2 linked regions of the Homo sapiens genome follow. The protein of the gene in region 1 purifies or fractionates together with the protein of each later gene. This does not show direct contact. Each region holds a gene or a part of one and is shown in the gene's direction. Other genes may lie near its edges.

Region 1 (8,809 bases):
TATCATATCAGAAATGCAGATGCACGTTTGGTTGACAAAACACACTGAATTTGTTAAAATACTTACTTAGAAAATTCAGTTGAAACGTTATGGTACCATCTAAATCACAAAACTTAATTCAGTAATTTCCAAAAATACATTATTAGTGACTGATAATTCTGCTGCTTTCCTCTTTTTTTCACCTTCCATTTTAGGTTCAGAATGTACCTGTGCAGTGCAGGTGTTTTACATGGGTAAATTGCATGTTACTGAGGCTTGGGTTATAAATGATCCCATCACCCAGGTAGTGACCATAGTACCTGAGAGTTAGCTTTTCAAACGTTTCTCCCTCTCACCCTCCCCACTCTAATATTCCCTAGTGTCTGTTAGTTCCATCTTTGTGTCCATGTGTACTCAATATTTAGCTCCCACTTATAAGTGAGAATATGTGGTATTTGGTTTTCCTTTCCTGTATTAATTCACTTAAGATAATGACTTCCAGCTGCATTCATTTTGCTTCAAAGGACATGATTTCATTCTTTTTTTATGGCTGCATAGTATTCTATGGTGAATATGTTCCACATTTTCTTTATCCAGTCTACCATTGATGGGCGTCTAGGTTGATTCCACCATGTCTTTTCTATTGTGAATACTACTGTGATAAACATACGGGTGCATTGTCCTTTTGGTGGAACAATGCATTTTCCTTTGGGATTGCTGGGTTGAATGATAGTTCTAAGTTCTTTGAGAAATCTCCAAACTGCTTTCCACAGTGGCTGAACTAATTTACATTCTCACCAACAGTGTATAAGCATTCCCTTTTCTCCGCAACATCTGTTATTTTTTGACTTTTTAGTAATAGCTATTCCGACTGATGGAAGATGGCATCTCATCATCGTTTTGATTTGCATTCCTTAATGATTAGTGATATTGAGCATGTTTTCATATATTTTTTGGCCATATGTATATCTTCTTTTGAGAAATATCTGTTCATGTCCTTTGCCCATTTTTTAATGGGGTTGTCTTTTGCTTGTTGAATTGTTCCTTATAGATTCTGAATATTAGACCTTTGTCAGTTGCAGGATTTGCAAATATTTTCTTCCATTCTATAGGTTGTCTGTTTGTCCTGTTGCCAGTTTCTTTTGCTTTGTAGAAGCTCTTCAGTTTAATTGGGTCCCTCTTTCAATTTTTACAACCTAGCTTTTAAAAGCCTTATCAAGCAAAGTCGTGTTTTGTTTCCTTCTTGCTTAAATATATGGATACTTATTCTCCCTCCTAAAAAAGGACTTGCCTTTGCATACCATGATATAGAATAGGCCTAAAAGTATTTTATGAACTATAAATGTATGAACATAAATATCAATTAGGTACAATTAATCATTTTCTACTTATTTTCAAAATTATAGAAAAATATGTCGTAACTGCAAGTGTGGCCAAGAAGAGCATGATGTCCTCTTGAGCAATGAAGAGGATCGAAAAGTGGGAAAACTTTTTGAAGACACCAAGTATACCACTCTGATTGCAAAACTAAAGTCAGATGGAATTCCCATGTATAAACGCAATGTTATGATATTGACGAATCCAGTTGCTGCCAAGAAGAATGTCTCCATCAATACAGTTACCTATGAGTGGGCTCCTCCTGTCCAGAATCAAGCATTGGTAAATGATATGGAACAGAGAGTTTCTTTATTGAAGTTCCTGGAGTATTTATTTGGGGCAGTTTCTTTGATGACCTAATCAACTTCACACATCCCAGATCTGTTATTCTTCCGGGGTTCTCATTACTTTGACTTCTGATTCCTGTTCTAGTCTTTTGAATGTAAGACTAGATACTTCATAAAATTTTTCCAACTCCCTAGATATGTTTACCTTTTTGAGGGAATGGTCTAACGTTCTTAATAATTAGATGGAAATCAGATGTTTTATATCAATCTAGTAACTCTTCTAGCTTAGTCTTGAGAGGATTTATCTTAAGATGGTAAAGAAGAGAATTTTTGTCATAGTTTAGAACTGAAAAAAATATTCAACATTATCTTTGTGTTTTTTTCATTTCCTTTATTAATACTATATAAGACCAAAAAGATCACAGTTTTATATCAAGCTCCTTCCACTATTATAACAACCAAATGAAACATTTGGAAGTCTTTTAAGGTTAGTTAAATCATTAAAGTGAATTTTGCGATATCATTTTTTATGTAATAAAAATGTTCCTGGTCCTACAGACCATTCCAAACATGTCTGCCTAAAAGTTTATGTTTTCTTTCAATTGTACATTTGTTTATTTAGCTTAAGTAAACAGTAGTAACTCAGATCTTACAAACTGAAAAAATATATAATTTCATGGAGAGAAAGTGTTACTTTTTACCCAACTAAATCTATTTAGTGTACCGTTTTTGAGTTTTAACTTCTTAATATACTGTGAGGGTGAGTTGCTGCTATTGGATAGAACCCACTTCTTTCTTAAGTAACTTGCTTCTGATGTGTGTTATGAAACATCACACTGCCTAATGGCCAATCCCAGTTAACATTGGCCTCCTTGTGGTTCAGGCCAGGCAGTACATGCAGATGCTACCCAAGGAAAAGCAGCCAGTAGCAGGCTCAGAGGGGGCACAGTACCGGAAGAAGCAGCTGGCAAAGCAGCTCCCTGCACATGACCAGGACCCTTCAAAGTGCCATGAGTTGTCTCCCAGAGAGGTGAAGGAGATGGAGCAGTTTGTGAAGAAATATAAGAGCGAAGCTCTGGGAGTAGGAGATGTCAAACTTCCCTGTGAGATGGATGCCCAAGGCCCCAAACAAATGAACATTCCTGGAGGGGATAGAAGCACCCCAGCAGCAGTGGGGGCCATGGAGGACAAATCTGCTGAGCACAAAAGAACTCAATATGTAAGTAGAGTGGTCACACTGTTAGCCTGATTTGTATACTTTACAGAATTTTTTTCCCTTACTTTGAACTTTTTTGGGGACTATTCCTCTGAGTTTCCAAAAGGGAATAAGTATGGGGAATAAATAGGATTTAGATTCAGTTTAGACTTCCCACAGAGGGTCATCGTGTTTGAAACTTCTGTCTAAAGCCAAATTTTCTATGTATTTATTATCAAGGATAATTGTGGATAGTGAGTTTTATGTACAGACAGTAGTTGGTATTGGCATGCTGATCAAAGACAGCATTATTATTCTATAGTCTGTTTCTAATCATAATGTTGGTATTAATTGCTTATCTCTGCTGCCCATAAATAGGAATATATGCTTAGGTTAATTCAGTTTTGCTTGTGAGAACGTGCCTAAAATTCAAACTTAAATTTAATTTTTGTGGATATATAGTGAAGCTTTTTTTTAAGTCTCTTCTAAAGGGAGAAATTGAAGTATTTTGCTAATGACTTGATGGTAGGAGGCAATTATGACACAGATGAACAGACATAAGAACTAAACCTGCTGTAATATATTCCTCATAGCTCCAGTTAGCACACCAACCAATAAGGCTTAGTCCTGAAAAAAGAGCACTAATAAGCCCTGAGGTGATAGTTTTAGAGAATCTACTTAAAATTGACCTGAAAATTACTATTTTCCTTTTTCCATAAGTGACCTTAATTCAGGAAATAATGCCTGTTACACACAGGGTGAATGAAGTAGATTTGAATAGCCGGGAGAAAGCTGAGATTCCATTTCACAGAATTATTAATACGTTATTATCTACATCGACAAATTTGTAATTTCAGTAGAAATTATGTCTCTTCAAAGTTGTTTCTCTGAATTTCTACTGAAGTCAATGATAAGAAATGGCAGTCTTAGCTGGGCACAGTGGCTCACGCCTGTAATCCCAGCACTTTGGGAGGCTGAGGCGGGTGAATCACGAGGTCAGGAGATTGAGACCATCCTGGCTAACACGGTGAAACCCCGTCTCTACTAAAAATACAAAAAAATTAGCCGGGCGTGGTGGCAGGCGCCTGTAGTCCCAGCTACTCGGGAGGCTGAGGCAGGAGAACGGCGTGAACCCAGGAGGCGGAGCTTGCAATGAGCCGAGATAGCACCACTGGACTCCAGCCTGGGCGACAGAGTGAGACTCAGTCTCAAAAAAAAAAAAAGAAAGAAAGAAAAGAAATGGCAGTCTTCTAATGACTAGGTTGTTCTGGATGGCTTCCCTTTCAGTCCTGCTATTGCTGCAAACTGAGTATGAAAGAAGGTGACCCAGCCATCTATGCCGAAAGGGCTGGCTATGATAAACTGTGGCACCCAGCTTGTTTTGTCTGCAGCACCTGCCATGAACTCCTGGTTGACATGATTTATTTTTGGAAGAATGAGAAGCTATACTGTGGCAGACATTACTGTGACAGCGAGAAACCCCGATGTGCTGGCTGTGACGAGGTATGTTCTATGGGACCACCGGCATGCTGGTGCCCTCTTAGACCCTCATATGGTCCCTTTACCTAGAAGGCAACAAGACTTGACCAAACAGCAGTTGCTCTGTTTACATCCAAAGAAGTTTTAAAAAATAAACTTCTGATATCATTCATTCTGTCTGTGTTAATTGGGTTGACAAATGAAAGACTAGAAATATAAAAGATTGATTTAGACTAAACTAAGTGATAGCATAAGTTCAAGCTTTAGGTTATCATTTTCAAACTTTAGACCCTGAGAAAGTATGTTGTTACAGATATAAATCTCTTATTATATAAAAATCCATCTTTATTTTTATCTTCTTCCTAGCTGATATTCAGCAATGAGTATACCCAGGCAGAAAACCAGAATTGGCACCTGAAACACTTCTGCTGCTTTGACTGTGATAGCATTCTAGCTGGGGAGATATACGTGATGGTCAATGACAAGCCCGTGTGCAAGCCCTGCTATGTGAAGAATCACGCTGTGGTGAGAAGTGTTCTAAGGATATGGTTGCCTCAGCCTGCTTTAGGACTTGAGTTTATGCTTTTCTTAAAGCCTCTTACAAATGGGAAACAGAAAGCAGTCCTCCTAAGTAGAAAGCAAATTATTCCTACCACAGGGTGTTAAAATCAAGGCAATTCAAAAACAATACATGCATTGACTATGAGCCACCTCAAGATTTCTACTTGTGAAATTTACAATATCAATTATAGGTACTGCTTAATAATAAAATCCTCACTTAAAAAAATTCTTAATGGGAATGAGATTGTTTTATTTTCATGGTTAGCAATCAGATTCCATTTCAATAAAGGTGTCTAGGGGCTATTGATATTCTTTAGCTCTATTTGAATATGATGCTTTCTGTTTGTGTTATTGGACCACCCACTGGAATTTTGTTTTTGCTACCTGGAGATTGTAAGATACCTATTTCTTAAACCCTCATTGAATTGATTTAGCATAACAAAACTTGGCCTGCGTATTTAGATTTTTGTGTGGGCCAAACATTCCAATGTGAAAGTATATTTTTTCTTGCATTTACTCTGCTTACACAGAGCTGCTGTTGTATAATGGCCAAGTGATGGTAATGTAGATAAAGGGTAAAAAGTTGACCATAGATGGTAAAGTGTATAATCCAGGAGTATCCAAATAGACATTTACTTCTTTATATGCAGCAAAACACATATGTGTTAATGGTCCCCTGAGCTATCAAGTAAAAGGGACTCCTGGCTAAGGAATGAAATTACATATGGTTTATATAGTTATATATAGTTATAAGAGTGTGGTACTGTGAAGATAAGGTAACAAGTTTTTATGTCAATGCCAATTTTCAGCGTTCACCCATTGCCCCAGATACAGTTATTCATTCTCTATCAACTGTGCCTCACCAATATATTTCACATTCTTATAATTACAACCATTCTACTTTAGACCTTTTTTTTTGTTGTTATTTTGACTATTGCAGTGGCCTCAAATTTCGTTCCTCCACTTTCATTCATCTTGCTCAAAAGCTACCCACCATAATGATGGAAAATTATCTTCCTAAAATGCAAATTATTAAACTTTTGATAGATCTGGCCCCTTCTTGCCTCTCCTGTCCCTTCTACTAGTTATCCAACGCAAATCATACATTTCCACACGTTCACCATCATTTTCTAGTTTACACACTGTTGTCTTTTGCTTACTCCTAATAGTTTTTCTAATACACCGTACTTTTCCCTGTTTTACCTGACTGTACCTACACATTTATTCCTTTAGATTCAGTTTAGGTTTAACTTTTTTTCGGAACACCTTTCCTGATTCACTATGCCCAAACTCCACCATTTCCTCCAGACTCTCCATGTTCCCAATGGTGTGTGTGTGGGTGGGTGTGTGGGGGTGTGTGTGTGTGTGAATATCATTCATCTGTCTCCTTCACTAGACTGTAAGCAGCTGGAGGGTAGAGCTTGCCTTATATCTTGCTTTCTATATCTTCAGTGTCAGCACTTAGAAAATGTTTGAGTGACTGACTCGTGTTCTTAATATTTCTCGCTTTGGGGTTACCATGGTCATTCCTTTACCTAGGGAACAAGACGTCAAATCACCATGTAACCTGATACATTATTTAGCTAAAAACTGCTTCAATGAATATTGTTGCAACAGTTTTTCTACAGACTAAAGGTATTATAATGTATACCTTTTTTTTTGCTGCTGTCTGACCTTTAGTCTCAAGGACTAGAATGTAACTCCATCAGGGCAGGGATTTTTTTATCTGCCTTTTCTATTCTGTTCCCAACACTAGGACAACATAGGTGCTCAATAAAAATTTATTGAAACAGATGAAACTGCTTTTTTTTCTTTTTTTAGCTGTTACAAGCTTCTCTGTATTACATTGTTTCTAATCAATGGCAGGGTATAACCACAGATATGATTTGTTTAAATAAAAGAATTTTCAAATTATTTAGTTTTATAGCATAGCATCATTTTGGCCAGGCATGGTGGCTCACGCCTGTAATCCCAGCACTTTGGGAGGCCAAGGTGGGCGAATCATGAGGTCAGGAGTTCGAGACCAGCCTGGCCAACATGGTGAAACCCCGTCTCTATTAAAAATACAAAAAAATTAGCTGGGCGTGGTGGCAGGTGCCTGTAATTCCAGCTACTTGGGAGGCTGAGGCAGGAGAATTGCTTGAACCTGGGAGGTGGAGGTTGCAATGAGCCGAGATCCTGCCACTGCACCCCAAGCCCAGGTGATTGATAGTGCGACACTCCGTCTCAAAAAAAATATATATATATGTGTGTGTGTGTGTGTGTGTGTGTGTGTGTGTGTGTGTAGCATCATTTCTTTTATGTTTACTTTCTCAGTGGGATATACCATTGGCCTTTGCCTAATATTAAAATGAGCATACATATCCATTGCCAGAACAGATTCCAGCTAACAGCAAAGAGAGCTACCCACACAGCATGCTACATTATATAAAATTTGGAGAAGGTTATCTAGTTCAGGGCATTGATCTGCTTAGATCTTTTCATCTTAAAGAGAGAAAATACAAATTATTTTTAGACCTGAAATCAAGTGCTCAACTCCAAACAACATTTCTGAGAAAAAAAAAAAAAAGTACCTGGAAGGAAAAAACATGGCAGATGCACCTACTTTGTCTCTGTGTAGTCACTAGAACTCCATAGTTACCCCCAGAATTCACATCCGTCAGATTCATAGGACACTCCTGCAGAGAGCTCATTACAACAGGTGTCATTAGCTCTTTTACATCCTGTGTACAAATAAGAAGAGGGATTGAAGGAAATAAGAATTCTTTGAAATATTAAAGGTTTAGGAACATGGGAAGATCAAATGGCAGGCAGGAAGTGGTGAAGCACATCATCTCCCTGAAGGGTTCTGCAGTCCCCAGGCCCTTGGCGCAGCCTGGGCCAATTTTAGATTTTTGAGGAATTAGGGAACAGTAGATTCGACCTGTGATTACATGTCAGATTTTGAATGAATGGTAATCAAATTATTAGTAAAATGAAATTTTATGAAACCCCAGACTTTAATTCTCTATACCATTTATGTGTACTAATTATCTTTTTGCTTAATTTTCTTAATTTCATGTGTAATTGAACATTAGTTATCTCTTTTTTGTAAATTGCAACTGAAAATGTGTGTTTTGGGTAATTTTAAAAAATCACAGGTCTGAGAAAAAGAAGATAGATCATGGTCTGAAAGCAAGGGAATAAAACACACGGTGTATTTTACAAGAACACATTCAAAATACATAAACAAGAAATATTGAAAGACTGTTCTTATCACAAGGAAATCATAAATGTTTAAGGAGAGGGATATCCTAATTACCCTGATTTGATCACTACACTATGTATACATGTATTGAAACATCACATAGTACACCCATAAATATGTACAATTATGTGTTGATCATAAATTTTAAAATGGAAAGATTAATATGAAATGCAGAAAATAAGACATTCTAAATGCATAATAAAGCTATAAAAATATATACAAAAAGCAGTTGCTTGCATGGTGCAGCTGCACATTAGAAATGTGCTTGTAATTGAAACGTTCATTTTTATAGTATTCAGGAATAGTGTGTTGATCAAAGAATTTTCATTGTATCTCAGGGAAGACTGGGTTGACCTAACTTATAGATTACAGAGCTATAATCTCTGTAATCAGAAGCAATGTAACAAAAATATGCAGGTCTGAAATGGACATATATAACCAGGCCTCACTTCACTGCCTAAACCAATTACCCAGTGAGTAGCAGCCACATTTTGAAGTCTTTTCAAGTAAGGAGGCTCAAGCTGAATGACCTCCACTCACCTGTTCCCACCCCTTATCCCTCAGTAATTCCTGACAATCACATTACGAGACCAAGGGTGCTTAAGATTAGTCACTGTGATACCAGACAGTCTTGCTGGCTTCTTCACTTGTTATGAAATATTTAAAACAAAAACTTTAAGACAG
Region 2 (7,938 bases), on another chromosome or scaffold:
CCTAGATGACTCATCCATTGTGTGGCACGAGACCTTACAGAGCCAAGAGTGCTGCTGGCAGTTAGGGTAGAACCAGCTTCTGGAGCTGTTCTGTAATTCCTTCTTTTCCAGCAAGAAAACTTTTTAAGCTTCTTATATCTCTGATGCATACATTCTTCCCCCAATGGATCATTTTGTAAGCTAAAATTTAAACACTAGAATCAAGCAGTTCTATAATTTCTTTTCAAGCCTTATTTCTACTTGATGAAGTGGCTTTCAAGAGTATATTCAGAAGAGTAATAGGGTGAGAGACTTAATTCCCAAAATAGCTGCTAATCCTGTTTAATTCCTAGGTTGTTTGTCCTTTCTTTCTTAGTTGAAAGACTGGTGAGTCACAGACTACAGGAGAGAAGGTATTGGAGTTTGCAGTTTGTTGGGAAGGTGGTGCTGTTCAATTTATTTAGGAGTACAGTCCTTTCAAAGTACGGGACATTTAATTTAATTTAATTTTTCTTTTTTTTTTTGAGACAGAGTCTCACTCTGTCACCCGGACTGGAGTGCAGTGGCGCGATTTGGGCTCACTGCAACCTCCGCCTCCCAGGTTCAAGCCATTTTTCTGCCTCAGCCTCCTGAGTAGCTGGGACTACAGGCGCGTGCCACCACGCCCAGCTATTTTTTGTATTTTTAGTAGAGACGTGGTTTCACGGTGTTGGCCGGGCTGGCCACGAACTCCTGACCTCAGGTGATCCACCCGCCTCGGCCTCCCAAAGTGCTGGGATTACAGGCATGAGCCACTGCGCCCAGCCGGGACATTTAATTTTCAACAAGCGTGTTTCCTCTATTATGGAACAACAGTGACAATTTCCAGGTTGTTTTCAGTCTGTCTTACATGTATAAATTAATTCCATTTTTGGCCCTAGTGAAAGTGAACTCTCTTAGATATGTAAATGTGTGTCCTTTGATCATCTGAGTGATAAGTAGTGGTATTTGCATTTGAAGCCTGCATATTTTACAACCAGAGGATCTGTAAAACAGTGAATTTCTTGATAACTGAGAATTTTTTTTTTTTTTTTGGTTGGGGGATGGCGTCTCACTTTGTCACCCAGGCTGGAGTGTAGTGGCGCAGTCTTGGCTCACTGCAACCTCCACTTCCCAGGTTCAAGCGATTCTCCTGCCTCAGCCTCCAGAGTAGCTGGGACTATGGGTGTGCACCACTGCACCCAGTTAATTTTTGTATTTTTTTTAGAGACAGGGTTTCTCCATGTTGGTCTGGCTGGTCTCAAACTCCTGACCTTGTGATCCGCCGGCCTCGGCCTCCCAAAGTGCTGGGATTACAGGCGTGAGCCACCGTGCCTGGCCCTGATAAGTGAGAATTTATACACAGATAAACTTGTAGAGAAGAGCAGGGAAAAAAAAAAGATTAAATTCTTATGAAAAATAAAATTTGACTGCTCATATGCATGTAAATTATGTCAGATATAACTAAATATTTATGCAAATACTTGGAAAGTCTGGGGACTTCTCCAGGGTTCTACAAATTGTTTCAATCCTTGCTGCCACTATCCGTAATTAATGGTATAGTTTCAGCTATCCTGCAACTATCCTGCATCTTTGTCTTATTTAAAAGAAGAAAAAAAAACCCAGCAGAATTTACCATGTTATTTTATGGCAGGTAATGATGAACTTTGCTGATGTGTAGTTACAGTGTTTCAAGCACTTGTATTTTGCTTTTTCTTTCTTGTTTTTTTCCCCATTAATCTTTGGGTAAAAATCTCTTGTTTCGCATGTAACTATCATTAGAGCTGGGTTTGCCTTTCTTCTCATTTTGTCCTTATAAGGCCATCCTGTTTTATCACTTCCTGCTTCAGCTCCTGAGTTTTTCTCTCTTCCCCTCTCCCTCTCCCTCTGCCGGGTGGATGCTTTCTCCATGTGGCAAGGCTGTAACTGTTCACAGCTGTCTGAAACAGCAGTGGACCAGGAGCAGCTTGGAGTTTTAACTTTCATTTTACAAAGAACAACATGTTTGAATGTTTCAGCAGGCAAGTTATAACTGGCATCTACTTCTTGTTCTTCTAGAACACCGAAAATCTCTCCCAGCACTTTAGAAAGGGGACCCTGACTGTGTTAAAGAAGAAGTGGGAGAACCCAGGGCTGGGAGCAGAGTCTCACACAGACTCTCTACGGAACAGCAGCACTGAGATTAGGCACAGAGCAGACCATCCTCCTGCTGAAGTGACAAGCCACGCTGCTTCTGGAGCCAAAGCTGACCAAGAAGAACAAATCCACCCCAGATCTAGACTCAGGTCACCTCCTGAAGCCCTCGTTCAGGGTCGATATCCCCACATCAAGGACGGTGAGGATCTTAAAGACCACTCAACAGAAAGTAAAAAAATGGAAAATTGTCTAGGAGAATCCAGGCATGAAGTAGAAAAATCAGAAATCAGTGAAAACACAGATGCTTCGGGCAAAATAGAGAAATATAATGTTCCGCTGAACAGGCTTAAGATGATGTTTGAGAAAGGTGAACCAACTCAAACTAAGGTAAGAATTGGGCGGGTTTGAAACTTGAGAAAGCCAATTCAAGCACTAAACAAAGCTGTTTTTCCAATCTAGCTATTTTGAGTAGAGGCGAATATGTGGTCAGTATGTCTTTTGATTCCAGTTAGATAAGTTAATAGTCTCAAATGCATTATTTACATAGATGCTAAGATTTGTGAGTCTCTGACACAATTTCATGTTAAATCAGGTTCACACTGGGATTCAAATTGGTATCTAGAAATGAAGAGAGTTTAATACCGATTGGATTATGTGTTTTTGTACACTTGCCCTTTTAAATTGTCTTCCTGTGTTCTTTATCATTTGTAGCTTTGGGGGTGGAATTACTGCTGAATAGCTCTCTGCTTGGACACAGCTGCAGACTGAGTGTTAAGGCCGGAGTTTAACATTAAGACTGAGGCTTACTTGTCTCTGCTAGCTGAATCCCTTCTCTTCTTCTCAACTTCCTCATCTGTGCCTTCCAACAAATGTTTTCTATCAGCTAAAATCCTCTCTCAGGCAAAATCAATGAAGATAGCCAGACTAGCTATAGCTTTCGGGAGTTTTGACTTGCAAATGCACAGGGTTGCGTTTTCCTACAACTGCTAATGAAATTTGATCCTTCATGTGGATTGCAGACCTCGTCCCCAGAGGGAATTACTTAACTAGAAAATGAGTTACATATGCTGGTGATTTATAACACAATCCAGAGGCCACAGAGCTGGTAAATTTTTCCAGTTTTCTCATACTTTCCTATATATCTGGCTTTGTACATGGGGATGGTTCGTTACAACAGTCGTTATAATGAAATAAACAGACCTGATGGGGAGCAAAACCATCTGTTACTCTAGATTCCACCTAGATGGGAAAGCTGGATTTTTTTTAAGCTAAATATTTGGCCCAAGTCCCTATGTTTGGAAAGTAATATAATAATATTAAGCATTCTTTCTGAGATAAAAAATAACTCATCCTGTAGTCTTCAGTTATATTAGATGTGATATTGTCAATCCCTTCCCATGACTTGCAGTGCCAGTCACTTTTCTACTTAGAATTAGAAAAGTTCTTGAATGTTTGCGGGTCATGTTTGAAGTTGTGCGAGTTTTTGACGATGTGTAAAGCTACAACACTTCTCTGTGCATGAGCTTTAGCTCTACTTTAACAGTGAAACCAGTTGGCAAGAGATGTAACCACAAAGCAGTTTTATAACGTTTCTTAACTCTCTTCCCTCTCAAGTTTTTAGACCTTTAGTCCTGCCAACTCCTTCTTTCCCCTTTATGGTTTTAATTTAAAAATTTGTTTTATTTAAATGGGAAGAAGAATTTTAAGTGGAAGGAAAAAATGTCAGAAATCCTAAATAGAGAGGAAGGGGTTTTGTTGTGACTCAAAGCACCATTGTAAGTCTCCTCCTCCCAGACCCTGCTAGGAACAGGACAGCTGATGTCATGCCAGTACACACAATGTAGATTCAGTGCAAAAGGCTGCTGCATGTTGAAACTGGCCAAAGGTAGGAAATGACTGGGACTGTAGCAGACAAAAATGCTGATTATGTGTAAGGATATGGTGAGACACTTTTTCTCATAAATATCTAGTGAGATATGGGTCAGAACAAGCCTATCTCCCTAAGGCTGCTTGGAGAGGAGAAAAACTTTCCATATAAGATCTTACTAGTCCGGGCGTGGTGGCTCAAGCCTGTAATCCCAGCATTTTGGGAGGCAGAGGTTGGGGGATCACTTGTGGCCAGGAGTTCGAGACCAGCCTGGCCAACATGGTGAAACCCCGTCTCCACTAAAAATACAAAAATTAGCCAGGCATGGTGGCGTTGCTGGTAGTCACAGCTACTTGGGAGGCTGAGGCAGGAGAATCACTTGAACCTGGGAGGTGGAGGATGCAGTGAGCCGAGATCATGCCACTGCACTCCAGCCTGGGCAACAGAGTGAGACTCTGTCTCAAAAAATATATAAAAATAAAAATAAAGATCCTACTAGATGGCTGATAGCACTGGGCCACCAGATTGATTGCTAAAGGTATAGGAAGATGGAAGAGGCTGGGCACGGTGGCTTACATCTGTAATGAGAATTTAGGGAGGCCCAAGGCAGGAGGATTGCTTGTGCCCAGGAGTTTGAGACCAGCCTGGGCAACATAGCCAGACCTCGTCTCTACTAAAAATTTAAAAATTAGCCAGGTGTGGTAGTATGCATTGATAGTCCCAGCTACTTAGGAGGCTGAGGCAGAAGATTGCTTGAGCATGAGAGTTTGAGGTTGCAGTGAGCCATGATCGCCACTGCACTCCAGCCTGGGCAACACAGTAAGATCCCTGTCCCTTAAAAACAAGAAGATGGAAGAGACATAAGATTCACCTGGGCTTCTAGGTTTCATTGCTTTTTGTGTGTGCCATTTTTAATTTCCTGATTTGTCACTTAATGGACTGCTTAGGGAGTGGAAAACACAGCCACCCTTGGTTTTATTGCTGTTTGTAAATAAGCATCATTGTCCATACTGAAAACAGTCTAGATTATATTTATTTATTTATTTATTTATTTTTGAGACAGAATCTCTCACTGTTACTCAGGCTGGAGTGTATTGGTGCGATCTCGGCTCACTGCAACCTCCATCTCCCAGGTTCAAGTAATTCTCCTGCCTCAGCCTCCCAAATAGCTGGGATTATAGGCGCCCGCCACCACGCCCAGCTAATTTTTGTATGTTTAGTAGAGACGGAGTTTCATCATATTGGTCAGGCTGGTCTTGAACTCCTGACCTCAGGTGATCTGCCTGCCTCAAGCCTCCCAAAGAGCTGGGATTACAGGCATGAGCCACCACGCCCAGTCTCAGTCTAGATTATTTTTAACAGTTCTGTCAGGTATTCTATAGTCTGAGCTCAACCTACCTGTATAGTCTCACAGCCAATCTTATACTCAAACCTTGGAATACTCATCCCCCAACTGCTACTTTTTGAATCTTTTATTCTTAATATTTCACGTTTTAACTTCAGTGTGTTTATACTTTTTGAAATGAGACCAGAACATAGTAGACTTTATAGAGAAGACCAGTTTTACCTAGATTCCAAAGGAAGAATTAAACTGCTGTTATTGTTTGAAATGCGTTTTTTTTTTGTTTTTGTTTTTTTTTTTTTTATGGAGATAGGGTCTTAACTCTGTTGCCCAGGCTGGAGGAGTACAGTGGTACAGTTATGGCTCACTGCAGCCTTGACCCCTCTGCCTCAGCCTCCCAAATAGCTGGGGCCACAGGTGTGTACCACCACTCTCAGCTAATTTTTAAAATTTTTTATGGAGACAGCGTTTCGCTATGTTGCCCAGACTGTTCTTAAACTCCTGGGCTCAAGTGATCCTCCTGCCTTGGCCTCCCAAGCTGGTGAAATTACAGGCATGAGCCACCACACCCAGCCTGAAATTCTTAAAGGATGAGAATGTCAATGACAGAGCACCTTGGCATCATTGTGACTAACCTGGGAGACAGGGAAGAAGCACGCCATGGGAAGTGTTTACATTTGGGTACAGCTGTGCTAAGTACTGTGGAGCCCATAGCCTTGAGGTAGACGGCTACTTTGCCTTTTTTCTTGAACTGTCTTGCAGAATGTGGATTTGGGGTAAGTGGTCTTGAAGCACTCATTTAGTCACCCTCAAATTAAGATTTTTACTTCATCTTTCTTGGGCCTGTACCTCCAAGATGACAAAGAAAAGAAGAAACAATGGTCACACCAAAGAGGGCCGCAACCAGGTGTACGCTATTCACTGCAGCCAATTTGCTGCATAAACTGTGCCCATTGTGTGCCCAATGACAAGGCTTATTAAGAAATTCATCATAGGCCGGGCGCGGTGGCTCACGCCTGTAATCCCAGCACTTTGGGAGGCTGAGGCGGGCGGATCACGAAGTCAGGAGATTGAGACCATCCTGGCTAACACGGTGAAACCCTGTCTCTACTAAAAACACAAAAAAATTAGTTGGGCGTGGTGGCGGGCGCCTGTAGTCCCAGCTACTCGGGAGGCTGAGGCAGGAGAATGGCGTGAACCCGGGAGGCAGAGCTTGCAGTGAGCCGAGATCACGCCACTGCACTCCAGCCTGGGCAAGAGTGAGACTCCGTCTCAAAAAAAAAAAAAAAAAAAGAAAAGAAATTCATCACTTGAAATGCTTGAAATGTAGAGGCTGCGGCAGTCAGCGATATTTCTGAAGTGAGCGTCCTAGATGCCTGTGTACTTCCCAGGCTGGATGTGAAGCTACATTACTGTGTGAGTTGTGCCATTCACAGCACGGTAGTCAGGAATCAAGGTCATGAAGCCCACAAGGATCGAACACCTTCCCCCCACTGTAGACCTGCGGGTGCTGCCCCACGACCGCCAGAAATCAAGGTCATGAAGCCCGCAAGGACCGAACACCTCCACCCCACTGTAGACCTGCGGTGCTGCCCCATGACTGCCACCGAAGCCCATATAAGGAGCAGAGTTCTTAAGGACTGAAGAAAAACTAGCCTCTGGAGAAAAATAAAAAAATTGCAATTGTACTTAAAAAAAAAAAAAAGATTTTACTTCAAAGGCCAGGCTTGAAGTTCTGAACACTTTGAAGTCTCCAATTATGAGGGATCCAGTCTAAGCCTCTGGCTTTTGCTATTTAGCAATAGGTGTTCTATGATGGGCTGATTTGGAAGGAGGGAGTCAGCCACTCTTGAGCCACTGCAGTGAAGTCACTTGATCTCAGTCTGGAGAGAAACACTTTAATAGCTAAACATTCTAGCTTTGATTTTTCTGAAGGGAATACACCTGTTTTCAATTCTGGGATTTTTGGGGTGCTTGCTTGACTGTATATGAACTTGTGATCCAAGGAAAAAATAGGAGAAAGAACAATGTTGGCTTTTTAAGTCAGGATAGTTTTATGTTTGCTACTAGATAAGGCAAAAATAAAAACTTATTTTTATAAATTCAAGAAGAAAAGTAAGGATGTTTTTATACCCTAGTGGTCAATAACTTAGTTCATAGTATTTATTTAATAAAAGGAAGGTGGCATTGGTGGTATAGTGGTAAGCATAGCTGCCTTCCAAATAATGAAAATTGATTAAAGCCTATTTCTCAGTTATTCTCTACATTTGATGAATAGATAGGTTATTTAGGTCAGGTGGTTTAGCTGAATATGATGGTTTTATTTATTTATTTTTGAAACAGAGTCTCATTCTATTGCCCAGGATGGGGTGCAGTGGCACAATCTTGGCTCACTGCAACCTCTGTCTCCTAGGTTCAAGCAATTCTCCTGCCTTAGCCCCCGAGTAGCTGGGATTACAGGTGTCCGCTGCCATTCCCGGCTAACTTTTTTTGTATTTTTAGTAGAGATGGGGTTTCACTATGTTGGATAGGCTGGTCTTGAACTCCTGACCTCAGGTGATCTGCCCACCTCAGCCTCCCAAAGTGCTACCGCGCC

Evidence for each region. Proteins that work in one complex are often made in the same cells at the same time.
Region 2: the proteins of TES (region 1) and LIMA1 purify together in Homo sapiens (affinity purification with mass spectrometry; 2 studies listed by BioGRID and IntAct, with this or other methods). This does not show direct contact.

The regions. Positions count from the first base shown.
Region 1 is NC_000007.14:116,247,635-116,256,443, forward strand, and holds part of TES (testin), read left to right. Parts: intron 1-1,385; coding exon 1,386-1,638; intron 1,639-2,526; coding exon 2,527-2,862; intron 2,863-4,125; coding exon 4,126-4,341; intron 4,342-4,683; coding exon 4,684-4,842; intron 4,843-7,483; exon of another isoform or gene 7,484-8,809. UniProt on the Homo sapiens protein: Scaffold protein that may play a role in cell adhesion, cell spreading and in the reorganization of the actin cytoskeleton. Plays a role in the regulation of cell proliferation. May act as a tumor suppressor. Inhibits tumor cell growth.
Region 2 is NC_000012.12:50,216,603-50,224,540, reverse strand, and holds part of LIMA1 (LIM domain and actin-binding protein 1), read left to right. Parts: intron 1-1,882; exon of another isoform or gene 1,883-1,906; coding exon of another isoform or gene 1,907-2,018; exon of another isoform or gene 2,019-2,055; coding exon 2,056-2,520; intron 2,521-7,938. UniProt on the Homo sapiens protein: Actin-binding protein involved in actin cytoskeleton regulation and dynamics. Increases the number and size of actin stress fibers and inhibits membrane ruffling. Inhibits actin filament depolymerization.